5 separate regions of the Homo sapiens genome follow, and all the other regions are linked to region 1. The links come from fine-mapping of genetic effects on gene expression. A gene starts in region 1. Each other region holds a variant in brackets. All regions are shown on one strand. Distances are between the middles of the regions.

Evidence for each region.
Region 2: its variant is fine-mapped to the expression of CDC42BPG in whole blood (TOPMed, PIP above 0.99).
Region 3: its variant is fine-mapped to the expression of CDC42BPG in whole blood (TOPMed, PIP above 0.99).
Region 4: its variant is fine-mapped to the expression of CDC42BPG in esophagus mucosa (GTEx, PIP 0.93).
Region 5: its variant is fine-mapped to the expression of CDC42BPG in subcutaneous fat (GTEx, PIP 0.98).

What each region holds. Positions count from the first base shown.
Region 1 is chr11:64,840,929-64,847,080 of GRCh38, forward strand. It overlaps CDC42BPG (CDC42 binding protein kinase gamma), which reads right to left and starts at 3,725. Exons shown (of 37, transcript NM_017525.3): 1 at 3,482-3,725; 2 at 885-976; 3 at 722-805. The coding sequence starts at 3,641. RefSeq lists enhancers at 763-1,575, 2,069-2,363, 2,388-3,200 and silencers at 3,415-3,464, 3,495-3,544, 3,555-3,904.
Region 2 is chr11:64,692,967-64,699,118 of GRCh38, forward strand. It overlaps NRXN2 (neurexin 2), which reads right to left. Exons shown (of 23, transcript NM_015080.4): 3 at 4,809-4,826. Among named protein-coding and RNA genes, the nearest start is that of NRXN2, 27 kb to the right of the region's middle. The variant A/G (reference allele first, on the strand shown) is at 2,788.
Region 3 is chr11:65,666,490-65,672,641 of GRCh38, forward strand. It overlaps RELA-DT (RELA divergent transcript), which reads left to right. Exons shown (of 4, transcript NR_183625.1): 4 at 4,934-5,229. Among named protein-coding and RNA genes, the nearest start is that of RELA-DT, 6.6 kb to the left of the region's middle. The variant C/T (reference allele first, on the strand shown) is at 3,006.
Region 4 is chr11:65,262,828-65,268,979 of GRCh38, forward strand. It overlaps POLA2 (DNA polymerase alpha 2, accessory subunit), which reads left to right. Exons shown (of 18, transcript NM_002689.4): 2 at 3,755-3,879; 3 at 4,650-4,741; 4 at 5,845-5,902. Among named protein-coding and RNA genes, the nearest start is that of POLA2, 3.9 kb to the left of the region's middle. RefSeq lists an enhancer at 1-46. The variant G/A (reference allele first, on the strand shown) is at 2,853.
Region 5 is chr11:65,472,204-65,478,355 of GRCh38, forward strand. ENEMAL (enhancer lncRNA neighbor of NEAT1 and MALAT1) reads right to left here and starts at 5,284. Exons shown (of 1, transcript NR_186313.1): 1 at 4,574-5,284. RefSeq lists a cis regulatory region at 1-305, enhancers at 1-36, 5,077-5,672, 5,508-5,597 and a silencer at 5,208-5,337. The variant A/AC (reference allele first, on the strand shown) is at 2,760.

The sequences.
Region 1 (6,152 bases):
ACTTGAGATCAAGAGTTGGAGACCAGCCTGGCCAATGTGGTGAAACTCCATCTCTACTAAAAATACAAGAAACTTAGCTGGGTGTCGTGGCACACGCCTGTAATCCCAGCTACTTGGGAGGCTGAGGCATGAGAATCCCTTGCACCCAGGAGGTGGAGGTTGCAGTGAGCCGAGATCACGCCACCGCACTCCAGCCTGGGTGACAGAGTGAGACTCTATCTTAAAAAAAAAAGTTTATTGTAGGCTGGGCACGGTGGTTCACGCCTGTAATCCCAGCACTTCGGGAGGCCAAGGCAGAAGGATCATCTGAGGTCAGGAGTTCGAGACCAGCCTGTCCAACATAGCAAAACCTCATCTCTACTAAAAATACAAAAATTAGCTGGGTGTGGTGGCAGGTGCCTGTAATCCCAGCTACTCGGGAGGCTGAGGCAGGAGAATTACTTGAACTGGGAGGCGGAGGTTGCAGTGAGCCAAGATAGCACCGTTGAACTCCAGCCTAGTTGACAGAGCAAGATTCCGTCTCAAAAAAAAAAAAAAAATTTAAAAAATTAAATAAAGGGTTTATTGTGAGAAAGATAACAAATCAGTGGCTGCTGAGGGTGGCACCCTTTGCCTGGTCTGCAGCCTTGCCCGCCCCCCCCGCGCCATAGGCCCTGGCAGCATACACCTCCCCCACACCCATTTGTAGGGTGCCCAAGGGCCCCCCAGACTCCACACTGACCTCAGCCCTCTTCAGCATCTCCCACTTGTGCAGCATTTTCATGGCAAAAATCTGCCCAGTGTCCCTCTGCCTCACCACGGTGACCTAAGGCCACAGGGAGGACCGGGGTGAGCCCAGCCCGGTGTGAACACCTCCCCCCACCTACCCCAGGCCCTTTGCTCACCTCCCCAAAGGCTCCTCGGCCGATCACCTTCAAGATCTCAAAGTCATCTCTCTGCAGACGCAGTTCTTTCACCTTTGATACGAAGGGGCTGGCTGAGGGGACACAGGGCGGGACTCAGAGTGCAGGGAGGGAGGGCTCCATTCCCCCTCTCACCTTGGGCAAGCCAGGAGCTGCCGCTCCTGTGAGCCCAGGCAGGGATGACCTCCCCAGGGACAGCCTCGGGCCAAGGGGTTGTGGCAGGAACTGGTGCTCCTTTGGCCATGATCAGGAAGTGCGGAAGGTCAGAGGCCGGGCTCAGCTGACCGCCTGGTCCCTGGACCTCCCTGGACCCCTGGCCCCAGACTCTAGGCAGCCTCCATCCCAGGGGCTGATGGGACTTGTAGTCCTGCCCAGTCTGCGGCCTGACTCTGCTTGGCCAGGTCACCCTGGGGACCATGGGGACACCATTCCTACCCCCACCTCACAGTTCTTGGCCCCCTCACAGGTTCAGGCCAGGGCCTGTCTTAGGAAACTGGACGGGTGACATTCCTTATCCCCAGAGAGGCTTCTCTCCCATTCAGGAGCTGTGGGCCTGGGTCCCGGGACCCTGTAGGCATAGAGGTGCCTGGTTGGGGGTGAGGCCTGCAGCCCCTAGGGCAGGGAGGACAGGCTCTATGCTTCCCACGTGGGGCCCCTCAGGCTGGAGGCATGGATGCCAGTCTGCCAAGGTGCTGAGACTCACAAACAGGACAAAGATGCCTTTCCCTGGTGCTAGCACTAGCCCCTGAAGGCGTGAGTGCTCAGGATGCCTCCAGGCCTGACCGGCTCTCTCACTCCCAGCCCTGCCTCCCTGTCTGGACGAAGCTTTTGTCTGGTCAAGAACGTCCTCTTTCCTCACATCCCAGATACCTCCAGGAAGGGCAACTCCAGCCACTCCCAGGCACTTTCCAGGCCTGGATTAGCCCCAGGTTTTGGGAAGGAATTGGGTCTTAGGGAGGCAGGAGTGATCAGTCAGGATGGGGGGCAGCTGTGGTCTGGCGCCCTGCCTCAGTTTCCCCCTGCCAGGAGGTAAACTCCCTGCCAGCTGGGCGGGTCTGTGGGTGGGACAGAGAGCTGTTCCACAGGTTTATCAGGCAGAAGCCCGCAGCGGGGGCGGGGTGGAAACCTCATTACAGAAATTCATTGTCTCTTTCCCAGGTCTGTGTGTGGAGCTGGGGAGGAGCAGCCCCGGGCCTCCCCGTGGGAGTTGAAGCCAGCACCATAGGGACCCACCCGCCAGAAGAGGGCCGAAGCCCAGGCCCACAGGCAGGAGGATCCAGGCCCCTGGACAGGCTGCCTAATCCTCTGGCCTCCCACAGGGCATGGGGGCTCCGGGCAGGAGCAGGGACAAGTAGAGACAAGCAGGAGAGGAATGAGTCACAGCCCTTTGAGTTACCTTGGGAGATTGTCAACAGAGGGCCCCCATGCCGGGGTCCCAGGCAGAGGTGCTGGAGGCAGTCAGGGAGGAGCACACATGTGTGTGCAAACACACACACGTGTGTGGGTGTCATGGGGGGGGTGACAACAACACAGGCAGACAGGCATAGCACGGAGGCATACCAGGGAGACAGGCACAGAGGCAGGGGCCTCTGACTGCCTCGCCCTGGATGGAAGGGTTGGGGCTAGGGGACAACTCCCTGGCACATCTAGGTGGCAGCCTCCCCCTCTACCCCAGGCCTTGTGCCTTCCCAGAGCTCAGGAGTGCCAGGAACGCTAGTTGCCCACTGGGCAAACACCTGCCTCACCCCGCCCTGGCCAGGCCCCCGTGCCTTTTCCCCATGGCCCGGCAGGGTGTGACCAGGGAACCCTCCAGCTGGCGCCAGTGCCCACAGTGGGTTCAGGGTCACCCCGGGCCAGCCACTCCCAATGACTCAGATGAGTCTACCAGGAAAGGTACAGACCCATCTCCAGCTAGGCCCCCCTCCCCGGCCCCGGCGCCACAGCCCCCAAGGAGCTTGGCCAGCAGCCTGCACAGGCCAAGGGTTGGAGATCGGTTCCTGAGTCCAGGCTGCAGTGGTCTTGTACCCAGGGAGCTGGGGGTGTGTGTGTTGGTGGGGGGAAGGTCTGCAAGTGTGCGATACCTACAGATCTGTGTGTTTTGCAGTGCCAATGCGGTCGGGGTGGTCTGCAGCGCTCCCTGGGTCTCTCCATGAGTTGTGTGTCTCAATGCATCCGAGAGGAAGGAGAAACAGAGCCCGTGTATCAGTGGGTGACATGCATGAGGGTCTGTGTGTGTCCTGCGTCAGGTGTGGCCTGTAAGCAAGGAAATCTGTAAGGGACTCTAGGCGGTGCACTGGGTACATGCGTCTGCGGTCGATACCTGAGCACAAGTTGGTATGTGTGTGCATGTGTCGGGGTCTGTGAGAGGGAGAGAGCGTGTGTGAGAATTGGAGTGAGGGTGAGGTGTGCAGGCGAGTGTGCGGGCCGCGGGGGTCCGGTGGTACGCGTCAGGGCCACTGCAGGGAGTCTGCGAGGGAAGCCCGTGGGGGTGCGGGTCCCTGCGGGAAAGTCTGCGGGTGCGGGGGTCTCGGCGCGATATCCCTAGGCCCGCCCCCGCTCCGTGCCGCCCCGCCACTCACCCCAGCTCAGGAACTGCGCCACGCTGCGCTCCCGCCGTAGGGGGCCGCTGCTGAGCTCGTGGTGCAGCGCCAGCAGCAGATCTAGGAGGCCGTCGAGCCCCGGGCAGCCGCCGGCCTCGCCCCGCGCCAGCTGCTCCAGCGCGCGCAGCCGCCGCTCCATGGCTGCGGCCGGAGCCTCGCTGCTCGGCTACAGTCTGGCCGCCCGCATGCCCGCCTGTCGGGCCGTCCGTCCGCCCAACCGTCTGAGGCTCTGTCCGCGCGTCCTCCCCCGCCCCTCTCCCGCCCTCCCCGCTGTCACCTTCCTCCGCCGCCGCCAGCGCGCCCTCACCTGGGCGCCGCGCCCCGCCCCCCGACGGACGGGCAGGTGCGCGCCGGCCAATGGGAGCCGCGGCTAGAGGTGAAGGTGGGGGCGGAGGCGCGCGGGGGCGGGCCCAACTCCCGGCCAGGAAGTGCGGGGGCGGGCCGGGGAGAACAACTGACTTCTGCGCGGGGCGCGGTGGGGTTCTGCGGGGTCGGAAAGACTCCCCAGATCCCCGCGCGGCCCCAGACCCAGACTTACCTGGGCCCTCCCTGGGCCCTGACCCAGGAGGCGCGGAGCACTGCAACTTCTCTCGCCCCCTGGGTCGCAGCCGCCTTGCCCTTGGCTAAGAGAGAGGGGCTAGGGACGCCCGCGGCCCCGGAGCCGGATGGGAATTGTAGTTCGCTCTCTCCATGGTTTGCCCGCGCTTGGCACCCATCGCCCCCCCGCCCCCGCCCAAAAAAAAGTTTCTGAATCTTACTTTGATTGTATCATTAGAGTTGATGTGGGAGACAGGAAGTTGGGGTAGGGATGGTCACGCCCATTTGGCAGATGGACACACTGAGGCTTGGGAAGGAGGAAGGCGAATTGAGGGGCTGAGGACAAGGTGGCTCTTAAGTTAGACCCTGGGGTGGAGGTGGAGCTGGGCTGGTACCAACACCACAGGCGTTTTAAGCTTCAGTAGGAGCAGGGCCTGAGGTCTGACCTGGAACGTGAAGGGCAAGGAGAGGTCTGAGATAGGCTGGAGGAGGTTGGGGAGGGGAGGGGCTGGCTCTGTCCAGTGGTATTTCTGATTTCTGTCCAGCTGGGATGGACCAGGCACCATGAGGAGAGATCAAAGGGTGGGACATATTGGTGGCTTCAGACAACACTTTTTTTTTTTTTTTTTTGAGACAGGGTCTCTCTGTCACCCATGCTGGAGTGCAGTGATGCAATCATAACTCACTGCAGCCTTGACCTCTTAGGCTCCTGCCTCAGCCTCTTGAGTAGCTGGGATTACAGGCAGATGCCACCACACCCAGCTGATTTTTTATTTTACTTTTTGGAGTCAAGGGTTATTGTTATGTTGACCAGGCTGGTCTCGAACTCCTGGGCTCAGGTAATCCTCCCACCTTGGCCTCCCGGAGTTCTGGGATTACAGACATGGGCAACTACACCCGGCCTAGACAACACTTCTTTCTCTTTTTTGAGACAGGGTCTCACTCTGTCCCCTAGGCTGGAGTGCAGTGGTGCAATCGTAGCTCACCACAGCCTCAACCTCCTGGGTTCAAGTGATCCTCCCACCTCAGCCTCCCGAATAGCTGAGACTACAGGCTCACACCACTAGGCCAGGCTGATGTTTTGTTTTTTGAGATGGTGTCTCACGCTGTCACCCAGGCCAGAGTGCAGTGGCACGATCTCGGCTCACTGCAACCTCTGCCTCCCAGGTTCAAGAGAGTCTCCTGCCTCAGCCTCCCAAGTAGCTGGGATTATAGGCATGTGCCACCACACCCAGCTAATTTTTGTATTTTTAGTAGAGATAGGGTTTTGCCATGTTGGCCAGGCTGATCTCAAACTCCTGACTTCAGGTGATCCTTCTGCCTCGGCCTCCCAAAGTGCTGGGATTACATGCGTGAGTCACTGGGCCCAGCCATGTTTGTATTTTTTATAGAGATGGGGTTTCGCCATGTTGCCTAGGCTGATCTCAAACTCCTGGACTCAAGTGATCTGCCTGCCTCAGCCTCCCAAAGCGCTGGGATTACAGGCTGTAGCCACTGGCCAACACATTATTTCATTAAAAGACCTGTTTAGGGGTTTGCCTCTCCTCTCGTACTGGGACCTCGCTGAGATGGGGGCAGGATCAGGTTGAGGGAGGAGGTGTTCCATGAATGTTTGAAGCAAACAGGGTGTTTCTCCCCACGAAGGGTTTTTCATGTGATTATTTGTTTATTTATTTATTTATTTTAAAGAGACAGGGTTGCACTATATTGCCACGTTGGCCAAGCTGGTCTGACCTCAGGTGATCCGCCCACCTCGGCCTCCCAAAGTGCTGGGATTACAGGCATGAGCCACCATACCCAGCCTTTTTTTGAGACAGGGTCTTGCTCTGTCACCCAGGCTGGAGTGCAGTGATGCAATCTCAGCTCACTGCAGCCTCAACATACTGGGCTCAAGTGATCCTCCCACCTCAGCCTCCTGAGTAGCTGGGACCGCAAGCCTGCACCACCACGCCTGGTTAATTTTTAATTTTTTTTTTAGAGCTGGGGTCTCTCTACATTGCCCGGGGCTGGTCTCAGACTCGCCCTGCCTCCCATGTGATCTCCCCAGAGGCCCGCCCTGTAGCTACGCAGGGCCCATGGGCTGAGAAATGTTTGGGGAAACAGAGTCTGGGTG
Region 2 (6,152 bases), 150 kb before region 1:
TCAAAATCAGCCAGAGAGAAGGGAGAAAAAAGCTTTTGCTGCCACAATTTAAAAACCTTTTTTAACTTGTGACAGACATCGGGGGGAGCCCCAGCCCAGGAGCTGAGGAGAGGGGCCCGATGCCGAAACAGCGGGTGGAGGGCACAACAGGGGAAGAGAGAAAGAGAGATTAGGGGCGTCAGAGAGGGTGAGAGGGGTACAGGCAGAACTGGAGGAAGGAGGGGGCGGGGGGCACTGCAGCGGGGAGAGGAGATTTTGGTTTCTTTTTTTCTTCTTGCCGGAAAAAAAAAAAGGAAAAGGAGGAGAAGCATTAGGCTAGGAGGGTTGCTTTTTCCTTTTTCTTTTTTTCTTTTTTTTTTTCTTCCGGGAGGCGGAGAGAAAAAAAAACAGTCAACGAGAAAAACGATTCAGATGGAGGAGAAAATAAAACACGACACAAAAATCAAAGCCACCTGGAGAGAGAGAGAGTGTCCTGTTAGCATGGGATTAAGCGGGCAAGGGGGCCTCCAACCCCCCAACACCCCTAATCCCAGTTACCCCTAGGATGCTGGTAGAAAAGGGGGAAAGATGGGGGGATATAAAGAACCTGGGCCTAAAAGCATCCCCCACTAAAGCGGGGTTTGGAAGGACACCTGTTGGGTTCTAATCCTCCCAGCTACCCTTCCCAATAACCTCTGTAGGGGTAGTAGGGACCCTGCACACCTGGGTTCTAAGAGGAAACTGGGGTTCAAGAGGACAAAATTAGAGAGGAAGCAGGTAGGAGAAGGTAGAATCTACAGAGACACTGAGAGACTGGGGTCAGAGCTCTCAGACAGCAAGGTCCAAAGAGGACAGCCGAGCCCTATGGGAGGAAGCCCAGCTCTCTGAAAGGTCCAAGTACATCATTCATAAATTACAGACCCCCTTTCTCTGACCAGGACCTCTCTCAAATGACCCAAAAGCTGGATTTTGAAAATAGAAAATGGACTGATAGGAAGACCAGCTAGGATTTCCATCCAGGATTACACTGGCCCCTTGAGACAGCCTTGTCAGCCCTAACCCAAAGTACCCCTCCCCAGCCTTAGTGGGAAGGAATCTGGCCCACTGGATCAGTACCCTTGTCCCCAACAGGCACCAGCCAAGGAAAGCTCTCTCCTAGAGAGGCTGGCAGCACCAGGCCCCACAGCTGGGCTGAGACCCCAGGGCTTCCTGAGATGGCCAGCCAGCTCCACCAAACCTCAGAGCCCCCCCAGCCCCACTCACTCCCCTGTGGTGTCTGGCCAAGAGGGTAGGAAGGGGAACAGCCCTGCAGTGCCACTGTCACCCTTGGAAACCAGCCCCACTGCTGTGGCAATGAGATGTGAACCCTAGGGATAGAAAGCTGGGGCCAGGATGGAAGTAGCAAGGTTAAAGAGTTACAAGTATTTCTGAGACGAAGCTGGGGGCCAGGATGCCTGGATTCTAAGAGGAAAGGCAGTGAGGAGGACAGGAAGGACATGGCCAGGGGCCAAAGGCCTGGACCCCGTGGCAGATGGTTCACATTGCCCTCTTTGCCCCATGTCTCTAGGGTGGCACTGGTTTCTCCCCACCTCTGAGTCTGAGGCCACTTGGAGGAGGAGGCCACAGCCGCTGAGGGCAGCCTCAGGACTGAACAGCTCTTGGGAGGATGTAGGTTTTTATCCATCACACAGGTAAGGACCCAAGCATTTGAACCGAGTCTCCTCATTCCTTACTCTGAATACCCTCCTACTCTGCCACCAACCCTTTCCCCAAAAACTACCAGCATCTCCTTCCAAACCCCCTAAACCCAGGACCCAGACCCAGAGCCCTCAACCCACATCCGACTCTCCCGGTCAGAAGCAGCCTTGCTCTCAGGATCCCACCCTTGAGAATCCAGGTCTCTGCCCACCCCCAGCCCAGGAGCCAGGTGCCCTGTGAACCCACCCTCTGTCTCCCACAGGCCTGACTGCTGCTGGAGGAAGCCACATCTCCCTCTCCCAGACCCTTCCACTGCCCAGCTCCTCGCCAGCCTCGTTAGCATTCGGCAGTCTCCCTCTGTCACCACGGCAACCAGCTGCTCAGCTCCCTCAGGCGTGACAGCACCAGCCATCTTGGTGAAGGGGAGGCTGGTTCCCTTCCTGTCTACCCCTGGCTCAGTCCCAGCTGGCCCCAGGGTTTTCTCCCTAAAGTCTGTCTCCCCACTAATCTGAAATCTCTGCTCCCTCCTCCTGGCCCCCAGCCCCACTGGGGTATTCACTTCCCCACATCCACCTGTGGCATCAGCCCCTCCTCCCACTGCTGGAAAAGAGACTGGCAATGATGGATGGCATTGCCATGGGTCCCTTCCTAGGGCACTTTATCTGGCTACTTCTGGGTCTCTTTGCCCTGCCACTAGAGGCTGGGAGGAAAAAGGAGGTGTTCGGCAGGGGTGCAGAGCAGGATCTTGGGGTTCCTGGAGAAAGCTAGGCCTCAGGCACAGTGTCAAGTGGGAAGAAGGCGAAGGTACAGAGGACTCCTTAGAGATATAAGGAGGGCTGCAGGGTCCAGAGCACAGTGCCACAGAGGAGGCCGCCAGCCCAGCCACGTGGAACCACCACCTGCTAAACCCACCTCCCCATCTTCAGTCTCATCCCCTAACTCTCCTACTGAAACCCCAGAGAGAACCACCATCGAAATAAAGATGGTGATAGGTGACCAAATTAAGAGACACACAAGCAGGCACACAGACATGTCTCAGAGTGACACAGAGATGTGTCAGACTCCTAGGTGTGTATACACACACGCGCACACACACACACACAGCCTCCA[A/G]TACACAGCCCTGCACAGCCACTGACATGCAGGCATCCACAGTGCCACATCTAAACCAGCAGACCACCATGCCACCCAAAGAAATGGCGAGGTGGCGTCCACAGGCCTCCTTCCCCATGGGTCCCCAAAGCCCAGCTTCCCTTCTTGTTCCTGTCTATCAGCCCCTTTCCTCTTCCCTACTCCCACCAGACTCCTTCTTCCCAAGTGCCCCCCTGCCTTTCTTCTTTTGGCCAAGCTGTTCCCCGTTCCTGCCCCACCCCCTACAGCTTGAGGCTTGAGTCTTTCTCTTCCCACCCTTCACTTACCCCCTCTCCTTCCTCCATCTCTCTGCTCCCTCCTTTTTTCTCTCCTCCACCCTTTTTTCCCTTTCTCTCTTCCTCCCTCCATCTCACCCTTTGTTCCGGAGGAGACATGACATCAAGAGCAAGTAAAAGTCACATCAACACTAAATCTTATCTCCAGCCCTCAGAAGGCTGCGTCCACCCAGACACGCAGACTCTCTCTGTGACACACACGCAGAGGTAAACACTGACACACGGAGATGCAAACACAGATGCAGACACACAAAGATGCTGATGCTCTACATAGGCATACAGAAATGTGGGCCACACCACATATGCATCGATGGAGGCGCACAGCACACCCATGCACTCAGACACAAAACCATGTTACGTGTACACAGCATATATCCTCAGGCGTGCACACAGACACACAGACCAGCAGAGTTGTATAAATGTATGTGTATGCAGACATACATACCCACACATACATACATACACACACACACACACACACACACACACACACACACCTGCCTGCTGGGCCCTGGGGACCTGAGGACCCCCAGGGAAAAGAGACATCCAAGAGAGACAAGTCAGACCATGGACATCACGAGGAAAAATGGGTTCCAGCCCCACACTCAGGCCAAGAGCCTCTTGCTGCCTTTCTTTCCCAGGACTACTGCATCCCTGGCACTTTCCTCTCCTCCTCCCCAGGGACGCCCTTGCCCTCCCACTCCACCTTCCCAGGAGAAGGGACTGGGATGCCACCTCATGCCTGCTCTGCTGCCTTCTTCATGGTAGCTATGTGAGCTCATCTTCAACACAGCCTTCAAGCCAGGACTACCTTCTTCCTGCTCTCAGTCCATCCCAGAGGAGGAGAAGAAACAGGGAAAGCCAAATTGCAAGAGAAAGATTCAGAGAATGACAGAAACCCAGAGAGAGCCTGGGGAAGGAGAGACACATGGTCCAGGGACAGAGTCTTGGAGAAAAGGAGGTAAAGACAGAAACTGGAGAGGGAGAAGAGGCCAACAAAACAGGAGATAAAGAAAGAACATACAGAGAGACCTGAGAGAGAGGCACACACCCCACCCTTGCCCTCCGACCTGGATGAAGGAAGAAGCAGCCCACCCCTACCTAGCAACCTGTGGGGCAGCAGCTAGGGGCCTGCCGCAAGTGGCAAGTGCTGGTCACAGTGGGGCAGAGAAGCTGCTCCCACTATACACCTCCAACCCCCTACTCTGCCAGTGCACTCCACCACCCTCCAGTCCCCTGAGCCCTGCACAGTGGCACCAGATTCCAGGGCAGATTTTCCCCAAGCACAGGTTTCTGGGGCAACAGCCCACCCCAGCCTGCCCCAGCATCTGGAAAATTGCCTTTCTAAGCTTCCTAACTTAGGCTGGGCTAAACGTTGTCTACCCACTCACTTCTGGGCACTTCGGAATCCTGTCAGCCCCATCCCTCCACCCCCACCGCTCATCTCTTCCCTAAGTTTCCCTTTCCCTCTCCAGCGTGGAGAGGGAAAGGAAGAAGAAAGGCCAGTCAGCAGCTCCCCCGAAACTCATGAAGAGGGGACGCAAGAGAGTGGGGCAAGGCAGCCAAGGGAGGACCCCAGACATCCTTCTCCGGAGAGGCCCTAAACATGGCAGGAAAGGGAGTCCTTGGGTAGCCAACGACAGTCCCTCATGTAGGATCCCCATGGCAACAGATCCACTACCCCAGTGACAGAGAGGCTTCACTCACCTTCCATGGGGTGCTCCTCTGCAGCCAGCGAGGTTCGGAGAAGACGGAGGCAGAGAGAGAAGAAAAAGGAGGGCTGTTAGCAAAGGTACCACGGACAGGGGCTCCAAGGGGAGAGAGGAGTCCAAGCCCACCCAGGCCCTGACATGAGTCACCCAATGTGGAAGGCCCAAATCTCAAGAAACAGCTATGTTGGGGATGAGGCAGACACAGAGCTGCTCCCTGAGTCAGAACCTCACACACAGTCAGCCAGTACCCATCACACCCAACCCTCAAGTAACATTTCAGGAAACCGAGGCCCAGGACAGGGAAGTAACCACTCAAGGTCACACAGAGAATCTGAGGCAGGGCCAGGAGTGGCAGTCAGGCTTCTCAACTTCCCCAGAGAGGCTCCTACCCTGCATTCCATTGCATCTCACAGACAGATGGGGACACACTCACACCACTAATTGTCTCACAGGGTTCACTAGAGACACACTCATGCTCAGTGACACACTGACACACATAGGCACTTAGCAATCCAGTGACACACACTGTCTCACACAATTCACATATAAAGCCCCTGCACACAGGACCCAACCACCTACGGCCCCTGACCCTCCCAGGGGTGAAAAGACATCAAGACACAGAGAGAACAAACATGATTCTGCCACACAGCACTGTGTGACTTTCATCCTATTCACTTAACCTCTCTGAGTCCCTACTGCCTCTTCTGCAAAATGAGAGGGGTGGACTGGATAGTTTCTGAGGCCTCTTCTGACTCTGATTCTGATTCTAGGACAAATGTCTTCTTAACATCTGGATGAGGCCAAGGGCCCCCAGGCTGGATGGCCATGCCAGTGGGGGAAGAGAGTCCAAATTCAGTGGGCCACACTGGGCCCAGACCTAGACCATGCCACATCCTTTGGATAGGCAGACCTCACCTATTAGGGCCCTGCCTGGATCTGGCCTTGGAGCTCACCAAATGGGTCAAGGGAGAAGATGGAACAACGAGAAGATGGAGACAATTCCTTCAACTAAGCTACAACTCCTCAAGCAGGTTGGGCTCTGATCTTCTTTGTAAGAGGATGGAGGTGCCCCCAGCTCCAAACATTTGCCATGTGCCCACCTCCTGGGAGCCTTTAGATGAAGCAATAGGCAGGAGGGGGAAAACAGCACAATCTACAAACACACAAACCCAGTGGGGAAACACATACTTGCATATGCAGGCCCCAGGATACACACTTATGTACACACAGCTATCCAGTTCACACTCACGCATGCACACATTATCTCCTCCTACCTCCAACCCCATTTGGTGATATCTGTTCATTCGCTCATAGAGAGGTAGCTATACTCTGAAAACAA
Region 3 (6,152 bases), 830 kb after region 1:
TCACTCTGTCGCCATGCTGGAATGCTGTGGCATGACTCGTTGCTCACTGCAGCCTCAAACTCCTGGGCTCAAGCAATCCTCCCACCTTAGCCTCCCAAGTAGCTAGGACTAACAGCGTGCACCACCACACTCAGCTAATTTCTTTTTTTTAATTTTTAGTAGACACAAGATCTTGCTATGTTGCCAAGGCTGGTCTCGAACCTCTGAGCTCAGGCGATCCTTCTGTCTCAGCCTCCCAAAGTGTTAGGATTACAGGCATGAACTACCAAACCCGGCTGAGTTTTTTAAAATCTTAATGAATGCATGGATTTAAATATATTAGCTGTGTTTTAATCAAGTATAGTTATTGAAATTCAAATTATTCGTCTTTGGTTAGGGAGAACTTCTTCAAGTTGGTTGTTCTTCAGTCCTTTTGACACAATTCCAATATATGAGTCTTGGTGGCTCATACCTGTAATCCCAGCACTTTGGAAGGCTGAATGGGGAAGACTGATTGAGGCCAGGAGTTTAAGACCAGCCTGGTCAACATGGCAAGATCCCTATGTCTATTAAAAAAATAATTTTAAAAAAGCAATTACAGTAGCCTGTGATAGCTTCTTTGCTGTTTGGTATGAAAAGATATTTCTTTTCTTTTTCCTTTTTTTTTTTTGAGATGGAGTTTCGCTCTTACTGCCCAGGCTGGAGTGCAATGGTGCAATCTCGGCTCACTGCAACCTCTGCCTCCCGGGTGCAAGCAATTCTCCTGCCTCAGCCTCCCAAGTAGCTGGGATTATGGGAGTGTGCCACCACGCCCAGCTAATTTTTGTATTTTTAGTAGAGATGGGGTTTCCATATTGGTCAGGTTGGTCTCGAACTCCTGACCTCAGGTGATCCACCTGCCTTGGCCTCCCACAGTGCTGGGATTACAGGCATGAGCCACAGCGCCTGGCCTGAAAAGATATTTCTAGACTCATCTAGTAAATTTTCTGCCCCAGATCTGGAATCAGACAGCTTTCCAAGGAGTCCTGATTTCTCTTAGTAGGAAATGATATTTAAAGACTACAGCTTGAGTACTTCGGATACTTATTGCTACTGAGTCAGTCATTGTAGATGTTTTCGGTGAATAGTTAGTACTTTTTTTTTTTTTTTTTTTTTTTGAGACAGAGTTTCACTCTTGTTGCCCAGGCTGGAGTGCAATGGCATGATCTTGGCTCACTGCAACCTCCGCCTCCCGGGTTCAAGTGATTCTCCTGCCTCAGCCTCCCGAGTTGCTGGGATTACAGGCATGCGCTACCACGCCCGGCTAATTTTGTATTGTTAGTAAAGACAGGGTTTCTCCATGTTGGTCAGGCTGGTCTCCAACTCCTGACCTCAAGTGACCTGCCCGCCTCGGCCTCCCAAAGTGTTGGAATTACAGGCGTGAGCCACCATGCCCAGCCAGTAATTTTTTAAAAAATGGGAGTCTTGCTCTGTCATCCAGGCTGGATTGCAGTGGTGGTGTGATCATAGCCCATTGCAGGCTCGAACTCCTAGGCTCAAGTGATTCTCCCTCCTCAGGTCCCCCAGTAGCTGGGACTACAGGCACACACCACCATGCTCAGCTAATTTTTTATTTTTTAGTAGAGAAGAGGTCTCACTATGTTGCCCAGGCTCATCTTGTACTCCTGGGCTCTAGCACTCCTCTTGCCTCAGCTTCCCAAAGTGTTGGAATTACAGGCATGAGCCATTGTGCCCAGCCTAGCTGGTAATTTTTTTTTTTGAGATGGAGTCTTGCTCATTCGCCAGGCTGGAGTGCAGTGGCGCGATCTCGGCTCACTGCAACCTCTGCCTCCCAGGTTCAAGCAATTCCCCTGCCTCAGCCTGCTGAGTAGCTGGGACTACAGGCACGCGCCACCACACCCTGCTAATTTTTTTGTATTTTAGTAGAGACGGGGTTTCACCATGTTGGCCAGGATGGTCTCGATCTCCTGTCCTGACCTTGTCATCTGCCTGCCTTGGCCTCCCAAAGTGCTGGAATTACAGGCGTGAGCTACCGCACCTGGCTGTAATTTTTTTTAAATACGAAATGCATCAGGAGTTCATACTAATGTTTCATATTCAAATTTAGAATTATAGGGTTTTTAAATTTTATTTATTTATTATTATTATTTTTTTTTGAGATGGAGTCTTGCTCTGTTGCCCAGGCTCACTGTAACCTCTGCCTTGTGGGTTCAAGCAGTTCTCTGCCTCAGCCTCCTGAGTAGCTGGAATTACAGGCACCTGCCACAATGCCTGGCTAATTTTTATATTTTTAGTAGAGACGGGGTTTCACCATCTTGGCCAGGCTGGTTTTACACTCCTGACCTCGTGATCCACGTGCCTCAGCCTCCCAAAGTGCAGGGATTACGGGTGTGAGCCACCGCGCCCAGCTAGAATTACAGGGTTTTAACTTAACCTTAGTCACTTTACATGTTTCTCCCATGTCAAAAATCTTGATTTTCTTTTGAGGGAATAGAAAAGTCCACTCTTAAATTAAGTCCATATGGAGTCTCAAGGGACCCAAATAACCAAAACAATCTTAAAAAAAAGAAACAAAGGTGGAGGACTCATACTTCCTGATTTCAAAACTTACTACAAAGCTACAGTAATCAAAACAGTGTGATTCTAGCATAAAGACAGACATATAGGCCGGGCGTGGTGGCTCACGTCTGTAATCCCAGCACTTTGGGAGGCTGAGGCAGGAGTTCAAGACCAGCCTAACTAACATGGAGAAACCCCGTCTCTACTAAAAATACAAAATTAGCCGGGCATGGTGGCCCATGCCTGAAATTACAGCTACTTGGGAGGCTGAGGCAGGAGAATCGCTTGAACCCGGGAGGTGGAGATTGCAGTGAGCCGAGATTGAGCCATTACACTCCAGCCTGAGCAACAAGAGTGAAACTCTGTCTCCAAAAAAAATAAAGACAGACATATGACCAATTGTACAGAATAGGGAGCCCATAAAAATAAAACCTTTCCATATACGGCTGAATGATTTTCAACAAGGG[C/T]GCCAAGACCATTCACTGGGGGAAAGGACAATCTTTTCAACAAATGGTTTTGGGAAAATTGGGTATCCACATGCAAAAGAATGAAGTTGACCCTTACCTAACACTATATACAAAAATTAACTCAAAATGGTTCAAATGGCTGGACCTGGTGACTCACATCAGTAATTCCCGCACTTTGGGAAGCCAAGGCGGGAAGATCACTTGAGCCCAGGAGTTTGAAACCAGCCTGGTCAACATAGTGAGATCCTATCTCTACAAAAGAAAAAAAAAAAAAAGAAAAAAATTAGCTGGGCATGGTGGTGCATGCCTGTAGTCCCAGCTACTCAGGAGGTTGAGACGGATTGCTTGAGCCCAGGAGTTCGAGTTCACAGCAGTGAGCCATGCCACTGCACTCCAGCCTAAGCGACAGAGTGTGACGCTGTCTCAAAAAAATAAAGAACTGGGGCCGGGCGCGGTGGCTCACGCCTGTAATCCCAGCACTTTGGGAGGCTGAGGCGGGCGGATCACGAGGTCAGGAGATCGAGACCATCCTGGCTAAAACGGTGAAACCCTGTCTCTACTAAAAATACAAAAAAAAATTAGCCGGGCACGGTGGCAGGTGCCTGTAGTCCCAGCTAGTCAGGAGGCTGAGGCAGGAGAATGGCGTGAACCTGGGAGGTGGAGCTTGCAGTGAGCCGAGATCGCGCCACTGTACTCCAGCCTGGGCGACAAAGCGAGACTCTGTCTCAAAAAAAAAAATAAATAAAATAAAGAGCTAAAAAGGGACCAAATACCTAAATGTAGGACCTAAAACTATAAACTCAGAAAAAAACATAGTGCCCCATGTTTTTGATTGCTTATATGTTATTATTTACGTTTTTATTGTTTATATGTTATCATTTATGTTGTATAATATTCATGACATTGAATTTGGCAGTGATTTCTTGGATACAACATAAAAGCACAGACCACAAAAGAAAAAAATAAATTAGGCTTATAAAAATTAAAAACTTTTGTACATCAAATACAATATACTGAAGTAAAAAATCAACCCACAGAATGGTAGGAAATATTTCAAATTACATATCTGATAAGGATTAATACCTAGAACATATAAAGAACTAATAATAGGCCGGGCGCCGTGGCTCACGCCTGTAGTAATCCCAGCACTTTGGGAGGCCGAGGCGGGCGGATCACGAGATCAGGAGATCGAAACCATCCTGGCTAACACGGTGAAACCCCATCTCTACTAGAAATACAAAAAATTAGCCGGTCATGGTGGCGGGCACCTGTAGTCCCAGCTACTCGGGAGGCTGAGGCAGGAGAATGGTGTGAACCCGGGAGGCGGAGCTTGCAGTGAGCCGAGATCGCGCCACTGCACTCCAGCCTGGGCAACAGAACGAGACTCCATCTCAAAACAAAACAAAACAAAAAAACAACAAAAAAAAACACACAAAGAGATACCACTTCACACCCATTAGGATGGCTGTTATCAGAAAAATAAGGTAACAGCTGTTTGCTGAGAAATATGGAGATGTGGAGAACACGTGGAGAAATTGGCACACTTGTGAATTGCTGGTGGGAATGTAAAATGGTGCAGTCGCTCTGGAAAACAGTATGGCGGTTCCTCAAAAGAATTAAACCAGAATTAACACATGATCCAGAAATTTCATAGTACTCAAAACTACTGAAAGCAGGAACTCAAATTGATATCTGTACACCAGTGTTCATAGCGGCATTATTCACAATAGCCAAAAGGCGGAAACAACCCAAATGTCCATTGACGCATGACCAGTGTGATAGTTAATTTCATGTGTCAACTTGACCAGCCCAGGGAATACCCGGATAGCTGGTAGAAAATTATTTCTGGGTATGTCTGTGAGAGTGTTTCTGGAAGAGGTTAGTATTTGAATCAGACTGAGTAAAAGGATCCACCCTATCCAACATAGGTGGCCATCATCGAATCCACTGAGGGCGCAAATAGAACAAAAAGGTGAAGAAAAGGTGAATTCTCTCCTTTCTTGAGCTGGGACATCCAACTTCTCAGACATCAGAGCTCCTGGAGGCCTTCAGACTCCGAGACATTACACCATTGGCTCACCTGGTCCTCAGGTCTTTGGACTTGGAATGAATTACACCATTGGCTTTCCAGGTCTTCCAGCTTGCAGATGGCAGATTGTGGGACTTTTCAGCCTCCATAACTTTGTCATCCAATTCCCATAATAAATCGCCTCTTATATCTGTATCTGTTTGGTTCTGTTCTGGAGATCCCGGATTAATGCAAATGGATTAAAAAAATGCGGCCGGGCACGGTGGCTCATGCCTGTAATCCCAGCACTTTGGGAGGCCGAGGCAGGTGGATCACTTGAGGCCAGGAGTTCAAGACCAGCCTGGCCAACATGGTGAAACCCCACGAAACCCTGTCTCTACTAAAAAAAAAATACAAAATTAGCTGGGTGTGGTGGCGCACGCCTGTAATCCCAGCTACTTGGAGGGCTGAGGCAGGAGGATTGCGCGAACCCAGGAGACAGAGGTTGTAGTGAGCTGAGATCACACCACTGCACTCCAGCTTGGGTGACAGAGTGAGACTCCATCTCAAAAACAAAACAAAACAAAACCCCAAAATGTGGTATATACATGCAAGGGAATATTATTCAGCCTTAAGGAAGGGAATTCTGATACATGCTGTATTGAGGAGCCTTGAAGGCAACATGCTGAGTCAAAGAATCCAGACACAAAAGGACAAATGTTATATGATTCTACTTATGTGAGATACCTACAATAGTCAAATTCATAGAGAAAGGAAGTAGAATACCCATTACAAGAAGCTGGAGAGAAGGGGAAATGGTGAGTTAATGCTTAACAAATGCAGAGTTTATGTTGGGGATGATGAAAAGATTCTGGAGCAGGATGGTGGTGATTGATGGTAGCACACAGTGTGAATGTACTAAGTGCCATTCAGTGGCACACTTATAAATGGGTAACATGGTAGATTTTATGTTATATATATTTAACCACAATTTAAAAAATCTCAATTCTTTCTCTGTTTTTTTATTTAATTTTAGAAATGGGGTCTTGCTCTGTTGCCCAGGCTGATCTTGAACTCCTTGGCTCTGGGCTCAACCAGTCCTCCCACCTCAGCCTCCCAAAGTGCTGGGATTACAGATA
Region 4 (6,152 bases), 420 kb after region 1:
CTGTGCAAATATGAATCCCTTGAGGTAGGTTCCTAAAATTGAATTTGAGCTGTGGAAGGAGCTTTAGGGAGCTTTACAGATGGAGAAACAGACAAGGAAAGCTAATTGCCTGAGCTGTCTGTGAAGCCAGGTGTCCTGCCTTGGAGTCCCGTGCTGCATCATACGGGTCCATCGTGTTGGTCAAGCTGTAGAGCAGTGTAAGGAGTCATTTGAAGCAAAGCCTGGGAGATGTGGAAGTTCTAGAATCGGTATGAATGTGCACCTGCCTTAACCACTCAACACTTTGAACTTCTTATATACAAAAAGATAACGAAACGTTAATTTATGGTGAGAAATTCCTTTCAGAAACCAGAATACTTCAAGTCTTCATGCCCAGTGCCTTCTCTCTCTCTCTTTTTTTTTTTTTTTTTTTTTGACAGTCTTGTTTTATCACCCAGGCTGGAGTGCAGTGGTGCAATCTCGGCTCACTTCAGCCTCCGCCTCCCAGGTTCAAGCGATTCTCCTGCCTCAGCCTCCCAAGTAGCTGGGATTACAGGCGCCCGCCACCAGGCCCGACTAATTTTTTTTTGTACTTTTAGTAGAGAAGGGGTTTCACCATGTAGGCCAGACTGCTCTCGAACTCCTGACCTCAAGTGATCCACCCACCTTGGCCTTCCAAAGTGCTGGGATTACAGGCATAAGCCAGCAGGCTCGGTCCTTCTCTTTTTAAAAGAAGACTAGCCAGGTGTGGTGGCTCACGCCTGTAATCCCAGCATTTTGGGAGGCCAAGGCAGGTGGATAATCTGAAGTCGAGAATTTGAGACCAGCCTGACCAACATGGAGAAACCCTGTCTCTACTAAAAATACAAAATTAGTCGGGCGTGGTGGCGCATGCCTGTAATCCCAGCTACTCAGGAGGCTGAGGCGGAAGAATCGCTTGAACATGAGAGGCAGAGGTTGTGGTGAGCCGAGATCACACCATTGCACTCTAGCCTGGGCAACAGGAGCGAGACTCTGTCTCAAAAAAAAAAAAAAGACTTAAGTGGAAAACCTGATCATAGTCAGAAATGTATGTGGTAAGCATGAAATCAGCATGAGAGAAATTAGTTATGTGAACCAGATTTGTAAAGGCTTCAGGCCAAGATGCCAGTTGCTTTCATCTCATGGCAATGGCTTTGGAATTGTGGACTTTGGATCATCAGTAACTTCAGTGGCACCTTAATGTTTCCTGACAGTCAACCGTATTTCCCTGTTTTTTTTGTTGTTGTTTGTTTTGTTTTTTGAGATGGAGTTTCTCATTGCCCAGGCTGGAGTGCAATGGTGCAATCTTGGCTCACTGCAACCTCTGCCTCCCGAGTTCAAGCGGTTCTCCTGCCTCAGCCTCCCGAGTAGCTGGGATTACAGGCTCCCGCCACCACGCCCGGCTAATTTTTTGTATTTTTAGTAGAGATGGGGTTTCGCCATGTTGGGCAGGCTGATCTCGAACCCCTGACCTCCAGTGATCCTCCCACCTCGGCCTCCCAAAGTGCTGGGATTATAGGTGTGAGCCACCACACCTGTTCTACTTTTTGTATTTTCAGTAGAGACAAGGTTTCACCATGTTGGCCAGGCTGGTCTTCAACTCCTGACCTCAGGTGATCCGCCCACCCTGGCCTCCCAAAGTGCTGGGATTACACTGCGCCAGGCCCCTGGTCTCTTTACTCTGAGTCTTCCAGATGATTGTTTTCCACCTTCTCCTGTAACATCCTTCTGTCCCACCCTCACTCTCAGCTGACAAATTTCTATTATTTGCTGAAAAATGTAGAAGCATTAGAAAACTTCGATCAGCTACCACCATTATGTCTCACTGACCCATATCTGTGGCATATACCTAGCCTTCTTTCCTATTATAATGAATAAGCTTTCCGTATTCCTAGCAAAATCCAAGTCCTCCACTTGAGTCCTAAACCCCATTCCTTCTGAAGCAATTAAGGACATCACTGGTAATTCTCCTGTCTTACATATTTTCTATTTTCCTTGCTACAAGATTTTTTTCCTACTAGTATAGAAATGTGCTTCCAATCTTGCCTTTAAAATACTCTGTTGACCCTACTTCCCACTCCAGTTCTCTCCTTCCCAATTACAGCAGACCTCAAAAGGGTCGGCCGGGTGCGGTGGCTCACGCCTGTAATCCGAGCACTTTGGGAGGCGGAGGAGGGCGGATCACAAGGTCAAGAGATGGAGACCATCCTGGCCAACGTGGTGAAACCCGGTCTCTACTTAAAATACAAAAATTAGCTGGGCATGGTGGCGCATGCCTGTAGTCCCAGCTACTTGGGAGGCTGAGACAGGAGAATCGCTTGAATCGGGGAGGTGGAGGTTGCAATGAGCCGAGATCGTGCCACTGCATTCCAGCCTGGCAACAGAGTGCAACTCTGTCTCCAAAAAAAAAAGGGGGGGGGCCTTGCCATCTTTAAATATTTCCTCCTTAAATCCATTTCAGTAAGTTCTTTTGTTGCCACCACTTCACCAAAGCTGCTCTACTCAAGGTCACCAGTGACCTTCACCATGCTAAAACCAGTGATGAATTTTCAGTCCTCATCTTGAATTGAATTAGCACCGGCACTTGACACTGTTTGTCATTTTTTCTTTTTTTAAACACATTTTTCTTTTAGCTTCTTAGACACTACTAGTTTTTCTTTCTTTTTTTTCTGAGACAGGGTCTTGCTCTGTTGCCCAGGCTGGAGTATAATGGGCAAATCACAGCTCACTGCAGCCTCAACCTCCTTGGCTCAAGCAATCCTTCCACCTCAGCCCCCAAGTAGCTGTAACTACAGGCACATGCCACCAAGCCCACCTAATTGTTGTATTTTTTATAGAAACGGTTTCACCCT[G/A]TTGCCCAAGCTGGTCTCAAACTTCTGGGTTCAAACAGTCTGCCCACCTCAACCTCACAAAATACTGGATTACAGGCGTGAGCCACTGCATCCGGCTTACTCCTAGTTTTTCTTCAGCTTTGCTTGTGTCACCGCTTCTCAGGCTTTGCCGATTCATCCTCAGAGGCCCTAAGGCGCCCCAAGACTCAAGCCTGGGATCTTTTCTCCCTTCTAGATACGCTCACTCCCTTGGCGATCTCACCTGGGGTCTCATAGCTTTATATCCCATGTATTTACTGATGGTTCCCAAATTTATACCTCCGCCCACAACCCTTGCCTGAACTACAGGCTGGTTTGTTCAGCCTGCTGTCTCCAGTTGGATGTCTAAATGGCACCTCAAACTCTGCATGTCTAAAACTAAGCTCCTGGTATCTCCTCTCTCTCCTCAGAGTAGTTCCTCTGGCTCTTTTCCCCATCTCAGTTAATAGGGACGCCACTCTTCCTGTTGCACAGGCTAAAAATATCAGCATCATCCTTGACTTTCTTTTTCTCATACCTTACATTCAGTTAGCAGATCCCACTGGCTTCACTTCCAGCATGTAAAGTCCTATCCAGAGTCCAGCCACTTCTCGCCATCTCCACTGCCACCACCTTGATCCAAGCCACCATCATCTCTCACCTGGGCTTTTCCATGATTCTTTAATTGGTCCCCCTGATTCTGCCCTTATCCTCTTTTGTCTCCCCTCAGTGGTGAGCTTTGTAAGGACAAGGATGCTTCTGTTTTCTCATTGCCCAAAACAGTGCCTGGCACTAATAGATTCTGAATAAACATTGATGGAGTAAACCAGGATTATTTTTGCTTTTCTAGGTGAAACTTCGAGAAATGAACTAAGTTTTTACTTGTCCAATTTTCCTTTCTACAGTGGTAGAGCTTTGTGTTCAGTATGGACAGAATGAGGAGGGAATGGTAGGCGAGCTTATAGCCTTCTGCACCAGCACACATAAAGTTGGCCTTACCTCAGAGATCCTGAACTCTTTTGAGCATGAGGTAAGAACAAAATGAAAGCAAACTAATAATGTGATTCTCCATTTCTGCTCTACAGGGGAGGCATTGTGATATATTGAGAGGAGTGTGGGCTTTCGAGTCAGGCCTGGATTCCAGTCCCAGTGTGAGCTTGGACAAACTATGTCCCTGAGCCTCAGTTTCCTTTTCTGACATTGGGTCTAATAATCTGTATTTTTTATGATTGTTATAAGAATTAAATGGGGCTGGGCGCCGTGGCTCATGCCCATAATCCCAGAACTTTGGGAGGCCGAGGCAGGCAGATCACAAGGTCAGGAGTTCAAGACCAGCCTGGCCAACGTGGTGAAACCCTGTCTCTACTAAAAATACAAAAATTAGTTGGGCATGGTGGCAGGCGCCTGTAATCCCAGGTACTCGGAAAGCTGAGGAAGGAGAATCGCTTGAACCGAGGAGGTGGAGGTTGCAGTGAGCTGAGATTGCGCCACTGCACTCCAGCCTGGGACAGAGCGAGACTCCATCTCAAAAAAAAAAGAAATGAGAATGGACATAAAGCACTTAAAACTATGCCCAGCAGGTGATAAGTCTTCACCAAATAATTGGTATTATTAGGATTGTTATATGTTATAGACAGTCATGGGATGTCTTTGTTTTTAGTCTGTGTGTATCTTAATTCTTTGAGGAATGTTAGATCTTTGATTATATTTTGAATACCTTTTATTATCTCAAGGCTTTTGAAAACACCTCTGCTATTACTTGACTATGAAGTACTGTATTCACTATCTTTTCTTTTTCAGTTTCTGAGCAAAAGATTATCGAAAGCCAGGCATAGTACCTGCAAGGACAGTGGCCATGCAGGAGCTAGAGACATTGTTTCCATTCAAGAGCTGTATCCTTTTCTGCTGAAGGTCTTTGCACCAAGCTACATGTTGTATTTTATAATTTGTCTGTAGTCGCATGTGTAATTTAAAAACAAATAATAAGGCCGGGCACGGTGGCTCAGGCCTGTAATCCCAGCACTTTTGGAGGCCGAGGCAAGCAGATCACTTGAGCCCAGGAATTTGTGACCAACCTGGGCAACATGGTGAAACCCTGTCTCTATCAAAAGTACAAATTTTTTTTTTTTTTTGAGTTGGAGTTTCGCTCTTTTTGCCCAGGCTGAAGTGCAATGGTGCAATCTCAGCTCACTGCAACCTCTGCCTCCCAATCTCAAGTGATTCTCCTGCCTCAGCCTCCTGAGTAGCTGGGATTACAGGTGCACACCACCACACCTGGATAATTTTGTATTTTTTTTGGTAGAGACAGGGTTTCACCATGTTGGCCAGCTGGTCTCGAACTCCTGACCTCAGGTGATCCGCCTGCCTAGGCCTCCCAAAGTCCTGGGATTACAGGCGTGAGTCACCGTGCCCGGCCAAAGTACAAATTAAAAAATAATAATAATAAGCTGGGTGTGGTGATGTACGCCTGTAGATCCAGCTAGTTGGTAGGCTGAGGTGAGAAAATCTCTTGAACCTGGGATGTGGAAGTTGCAGTAATCTGAGATCAGGCCACTGCACTCCATCCTGGACGACGAGGAAACCCCATCTCAATAATAATAATAGTAAAAATTGCCTAATATTGAGATTTCTTCTAGCAATCAGCCCTTGCCTTATATGAAAGTTTATTATTATTATTATTATTTTTTTTTTTTGAGATGGAGTCTCGCTGTGTCGCCCATGCTGGAGTGCAGTGGTGTGATCTCAGCTCACTGCAAGCTCCGTCTCCTGGGTTCATGCCATTCTCCTGCCTCAGCCTCCCGAGTAGCTGGGACTACAGGCGCCCGGCTAATTTTTTGTATTTTTTTTAGTAGAGACGGGGTTTCACTGTGTTAGCCAGGATGGTCTCTGTCTCCTGATCTCGTGATCCGCCCATCTCGGCCTCCCAAAGTGCTGGGATTACAGGCATGAGCTACCGTGCCCAGCCATTATTGTTTTTCTTAACCAGTGTTCTTAGAATTGAAGTGGAAGAAGAAGAGGAAATCCTCTTGAACTCTTACACCACACCTTCAAAGGTAAGTAAACAGTGTTTGGACATTGCATTTTACAAGTAACATTTTAAAATAGTTTCACAACATTTGAAGATCTGAGGGAAAAAATCAACCACTCTCATGCATTTCCTACTATATTTCCACTTATACATCTTCCTTTCTGATCATATGTCTAAATGTTTTACATAATGGCAGTCCTTATAAACATATAGTTATCCTGCTTTTCTCAGCACAACATAAAACATTTCTATAAACATAATTTCTCCATAATTGC
Region 5 (6,152 bases), 630 kb after region 1:
ATGCTCATGACTCTCCCTGACGCAGGTTCCCGACACACCGGGTGACTCAGCTGCAGTGTTTTTCACAGTCCGTGATGCGTCACAGCTATTTATAGGTGTGCTTAACTCCCTGTGAGGAAGCACTTCAACCCCCAAACGCAAGTTCCAGAAATATGCTCATAAAGATAAAGATAGAGAAAAGCTCTGGAAAAATACACAGTGCTGTTGCTTCAGGCAGAGTCCGTGTGTGTGTGTGTGTGTGTGTGTGTGTGTGTGTGTGTGTGCTTTCACTTTTTGCCTCATACATCTCATTGTTTATAAAATTTATCAATATTACAAAGTTGTAAACAAGGTTATTTAAAAACAACAAATTGGCTGGGCACGGTGGCTCACGCCTGTAATCCCAGCACTTTGGGAGGCCGAGGCAGGCGGATCACCTGAGGTCAGGAGTTTGAGACCAACCTGGCCAACATAGTGAAACTCCATCTCTACTAAAAATACAAAAAATTAGCCGGGCATGGTAGCAGGCGCCTGTAATCCCAGCTACTCGGGAGGCTGAAGCAGGAGAATCGCCTGAATCTGGGAGGCGGAGGTTGGAGTGAGTTGAGATCATGCCATTGCACTCCAGCTTAGGCAACAAGAGCGAAACTCTGTCTCAAAAAAAAAAAAAATTATAAATTTCTACACAAAGTCTTGCACATTCCTTTAATTTATTCATAGGTATTTTATAGTTTGTGTTGCCATGTTAGCAGTTACAAAGTGGCTGGGCACAGTGGCTCACACCTGTAATCCCAGCACTTGGGGAGGCCGAGGCGGGTGGATCACAAGGTCAGCAGTTCGAGACCATCCTGGCCAACATGGTGAAATCCCATCTCTTCTAAAATACAAAAAATTAGCCGGGTGTGGTGGTGCACACCTGTAGTCCCAGCTACTTAGGAGGCTGAGGCAGGGGAATTGCTTGAACCCAGGAGGCGGAGGTTGCAGTGAGCCGAGATTGCATCACTGCACTCCAGCATGGTGACAAAGCAAGACTGTTTCAAAAAACAAAAACCAAAAAACCAAAAAACAAAAAGAGTGAGGTCCCCCTGAGTCACATAGCAAGACCCCATCTCTACACAAAATATTTAAAAATTAGCCAGGCATGGTGGTTCGTGCCTGTGGTCTCAGTTACTTGGGAGGCTGAGGCAGAAGGATTGCTTGAGCTCAGGAGGTTGAGGCTTCAGTGAGCCAGGATGGTGTCACTGCATTCCAGCCTGGGAGAGACAGCGAGACCCTGTTTTTGTTGTTGTTTTTTTCTTTTTTAAAGAAAATAAACACCAAAACAATAAAAAGAGTGAGGTAGGTAGGACTCATGTCCCAAAATAGTTCTCCCTTTTTAGTTTTTTAATTTTTAATTTTTAAAGAAAGTTTCATTCTGTTGCCCAGGCTGGGGGGGTGGGGTAGTGGCATAATCGTAGCTCACTGTAACCTGAAACTCCTGTGTTCAAGGGATCCTCCTGCCTCATGCTCCTGAGTAGCTAGGACTACAGGCCCACGTCACCATGCCCAGCTAATTTTTATTTTTATTTTTTGAGATGGAGTCTCACTCTGTCGCCCAGGCTGGAGTGCAATGGCGTGATCTCCACTCATTGCAACCTCCGTCTCCCAGGTTCAAGTGATTCTCCTGCCTCAGCTTCCCGAGTAGCTGGGATTACAGGCGCCTGCCACCACGCCTGGCTAATTTTTGTATTTTTAGTAGAGATGGGGTTTCACCATGTTGGCCAGGCTGGTCTTGAACTTCTGACCTCAGGCAATCTGCCTGCCTCGGCCTCCCAAAGTGCTGGGATTACAGGTGTGAGCCACCGCGCCCGGCCAATTTTTTTTAAATGTCTTGGCAAGATGGAGTCTTCCTATGCTGCCTAGGCTGTTCTTGAACCATTAAAATGATGTATTTCAATTATGTATATACTATTTATACATATATTAGGATATATCTACATGTGTGTGATATGAATATATATACACATTCACAAGCACATTATAAATGTTTGTATGTGTATATATACATACATAGTCATGTACTGAATAATGACATGTCCATCAATGATGGACCACATATGTGACAGTGGTCCCATATACTACCATTTTTTTTGTTTTGTTTTTTGTTTTTGTGAGACAGGGTCTGGTTCTGTCACCTGGGGTGGAGTGGAATGGGGCATCTCTGCTCAGTGCAACCTCTGCCTCCCGAGCTCAAGCAATCCTCCCACCTCAGCCTCCCCATTAGCTGGGACCACAGGTGCATGCCACCACACCTGGCTAATTATTGTATTTTTAGTAGAGACAGGGTTTTGCCATGTTGGCCAGGCTAGTCTCAAACTCCTGACCTCAAGTGATCTGCCCACCTCGGCCTCCCAAAGTGCTGGGATTACAGGTGTGAGCCACCGTGACTGGCCAGTAGTCAACTTTACAACAGGCCTAGGATGGGAGGTGATTGTCCAACCAACTTTAACTTTACTGTTTGAATTTTAAAAGAAAATACCCATGTACTTGGGTATTATTTGTTTGTTTGTTTTTGAGACGGAGTCTGCCTCTGTCACTCAGGCGAGAGTGCAGTGGTGTGATCTCGGCTCACTGCAAGATCTCTGCCTCCTGGGTTCAAGCGATTCTCCTTCCTCAGCCTCCCAAGTAGCTGGAATTACAGGCGCCCACCACCACACCTGGCTAATTTTTGTATTTTTAGTGGAGACAGGGTTTCACTGTGTTGGCCGGGCTGGTCTTGAACTCCTGACCTCAGGTGATCC[A/AC]CCCCCCCTCAGCCTCCCAAAGTGCTAGGATTGCAGGTGTGAGCAACCACACCCAGCTGTACTTGGGTATTATTAAAAAAATAATAAGTCACAGGATGGAGCCAGGAAGCCTGAGGCAGGTGAACCTATGAGGCAAATGTCACGTGCAACAAAGTGTAATTGGCTCTGGCAGCCAAAACCAATTGGACATCTTGGTGAGACAGTCTCCAAATGTGTCACAGGATATAATTTCCAAAGTTATAAACATGACTGTCTTTAATGTATGTACCAAAGGTTACTTCAGGTGTTAAGAAACTATAATGGTGGAAACACTAGTTCAAAGGGAACTGGAGAGACTGAAATACTCAGAGGCACTGAAAAAGCAATGCTGGAATAAGATTGCTGAGTTACATCCAAAAGTACCTGCTGCGCTGCAGGGTAATAAGCCCATTATCTTGGGTCATCTTTTCTACCTGACAGAAGCTAGCTATATCTTATCAATCTACTCATCAGAGCCCAGCCTCATCAATGGTGAATAAGTCAGAGAGGTGCCATGCCTAGAGAATCCCAAAGGTCATCCTATGGCCACCTTTTCGGACTGGTCTTCATTTTGCCTTTTCAAATTTTTTTTTTTTTTTTGAGATGGAGTCTCGCTCTGTTGCCCAGGCTGGAGTGCAGTGGCGTGATCTCAGCTCACTGCAAGCTCCGCCTCCCGGGTTCACACCATTCTCCTGCCTCAGCCTCCCGAATAGCTGGGACTACAGGCGCCAGCCACCATGCCCAGCTAATTTTTTTGTATTTTTAGTAGAGACGGGCTTTCACTGTTAGCCAGGATGGTCTCGATCTCCTTACCTTGTGATCCATCCGCCTCGGCCTCCCAAAGTGCTGGGATTACAGACATGAGCCACCGCGCCCGGCCCACGCCCGGCTATTTTTTTTGTATTTTTAGTAGAGACGGGTTTCACCATGTTAGCCAGGATGGTCTCGATCTCCTGAGCTCGTGATCCACCCGCCACAGCCTCCCAAAGTGCTGGGATTACAGGCGTGAGCCAACGCGCCCGGCCAATATGTTTTTCTTAATGGAGGAGTATCCGCAGGGCGCGGTGGCTCATGCCTGTAATCCCAGCACTTTGGGAGGCCAAGGCAGGTGGATCACGAGGTCAGGAGATCGAGATCCTGGCCAACATGGTGAAATCCCATCTCTACTAAAAATACAAAAATTAGCTGGGCGTGGTGGCACATGCCTGTACTCCCAGCTACTTGGGAGGCTGCGGCAGGAGAATCGCTTGAACCCAGGAGGCGGAGGTTGCAGTGAGCCGAGATCGCGCCTCTGCACTCCAGCCTGGGCGACAGAGCAAGACTCCGTCTCAAAAAAACAAAAACAACAACAAGAAAAAGAGGTGTGTTATTTAACCTTTTCTTAGAAGCTTCTCTGCTGCCCCCAATCTTTCTCAGCAATCCTAAGCCTTGCTCCAGTTACTGGTTAGAGCTGGGCCAATAGTGGTCTGACCACACGTGGTGGCAGCATTCTGAGCTCTGAGGAGACAACCTGGGCTCTTGTCTTGAGGCCTAAACTGGGCCTGAGAGAGCAGGAACAAATCTGCCCTCTCCCTAAGCTCAGGGAGTCCACAGCGGGACCCTCACACCCAGTCTAAGGAGACCACTGGGCAGAGCTGAGATCTTAAGGACAAGCTGGAGTTCCCTCAGTTTTGGGAAAGGAGTTCTGGGGTGAGCGAGGAACATCAGGAGAAGCTGGAACAGAGAGGGGCAGCCAAGTCCTGAAGGGCCTGCTGTAACCCAAGAGAGAGGCCTGGCTTTATCCAGCAAGGCCAGGGTGCGGTCGGAGCAAAGGTTGTTTTATTAAAAGCTTCCTATGGCTGGAGCCCAGGAGTTCGAGGTTACAGTGAGCTATGATCACACTACTGCACTCCGGCCTGGGCAACAGAGCCAGACCCTGTGTTTAAAAAAAATCCTAAAAAGCCACAAAACTTCCTGAATGCAGACAATGTAGGGGTTCAAGGAGCTAGGGAGTACAGCGGAGACAGTGTTTGAACAGGCCCAGGCCTGGGCAGGTGGCTGCCTTGGATGCCCGAAGGGAAAAACAGAACAAAATCAGGAGGAATTGGAGCCTAAGTGAGGGAGCAGAGGATGAAGGGCGAGAAGGGGGCATGGGGCTGACAAAGCCGGGGTGGCAGCCCGTCCCACCCCACTCAGTGTGGGTTCCCGCGGTCTGTTCGGCGCAGCCACAGGGTCCTCCCACCACCCTCGCGGCCCTTCGCCAGCCCAGATACCGTTTTCCCGACTTTGGAACGGAGACCACAACACCCGCCCCGGAACTACTGAAGGCTCAAGTTAGGTCAACCCGGCAGGAAACCGGTTCCCAAATCCCAAGGCGGACCCAGGCCCGCGGTTCCCTCCCTCAAGGCTGGAACAGCGCGCAGTGGCCACCGCCGCCGGGTCTCCAGCCCCCAGGAGCGCGGCCTCCTCCCGGACTCTCTCCGATGCGGTCCTGCCCTGGGGACACGGCAGGAAGAAGGGACCTGGCTGGGGGACGTGGCCCCGGCGCGGGGGCAGGGGAGGCAGCGCGGGACTCCCAGCGGCCCCTGCGCGGGTGCCCACCCGCCGTCACGTGACACGCCGGGCGCTGAGTCACCGGGAAGCATCTGGCTGGGCGGCCGGGATTGGCCAATCTGCGGGACCGTCTGGAGCGGAAGGGCGGTGGTAGCTGGCCCTGCTTCTCCCTCCCCAGGATCTCTGCACTGGCCTTACGAACTGGGGAGTCCAAGGGGTTCCAGGACGGGAAGGGGAGTTTGAGACCAGCCTGGGCAACCTGGCCAGACCCGGTCTCTATTAAAAATACGCAAAACACACACACCACACACCCCACCCCACACAGCCCACACACCCCACACGGCCAGCAGCCCTTTCTGTCACCGACTCCGTTCCCCTGGCCAGTGAGCTCTCCGTCCCCTTTTCCTCCCTTTTCGCACACGTGCCTTTCCTGCCTGCTCCCACCTGGTGCCTGAGGCGTCTCTGCGCCTCAGCACTGGCTGTTCGGTTTGCACTACGGAGGGCAGTGTAGGTTTGAAAAGGAAAGTTTCATTATATAGAACACTACCAAGGCAGGGCGCGGTGGCTCACGCCTGCAATCCCAGCACTTTGGGAGACCGAGGCGGGTGGATCACTTGGGGACAGTAGTTCAAGACCAGCCTGGCCAACATGGTGAAACCCTGTCTCTACTAAAAATACAAAAATTAGCTGGGAGTGGTGACACTTGCCTGTAGTCCCAGCTACTTGGGAGGCTGAGGCAGGAGAATCGCTTGAACCCAGGAGGCAGAGGTTGCAGTGAGCCGAGATCCGGCCACTGCACTCCAGCCTGGGAGACAGAGTGAGGCAAGACTCCATCTCAAAAAA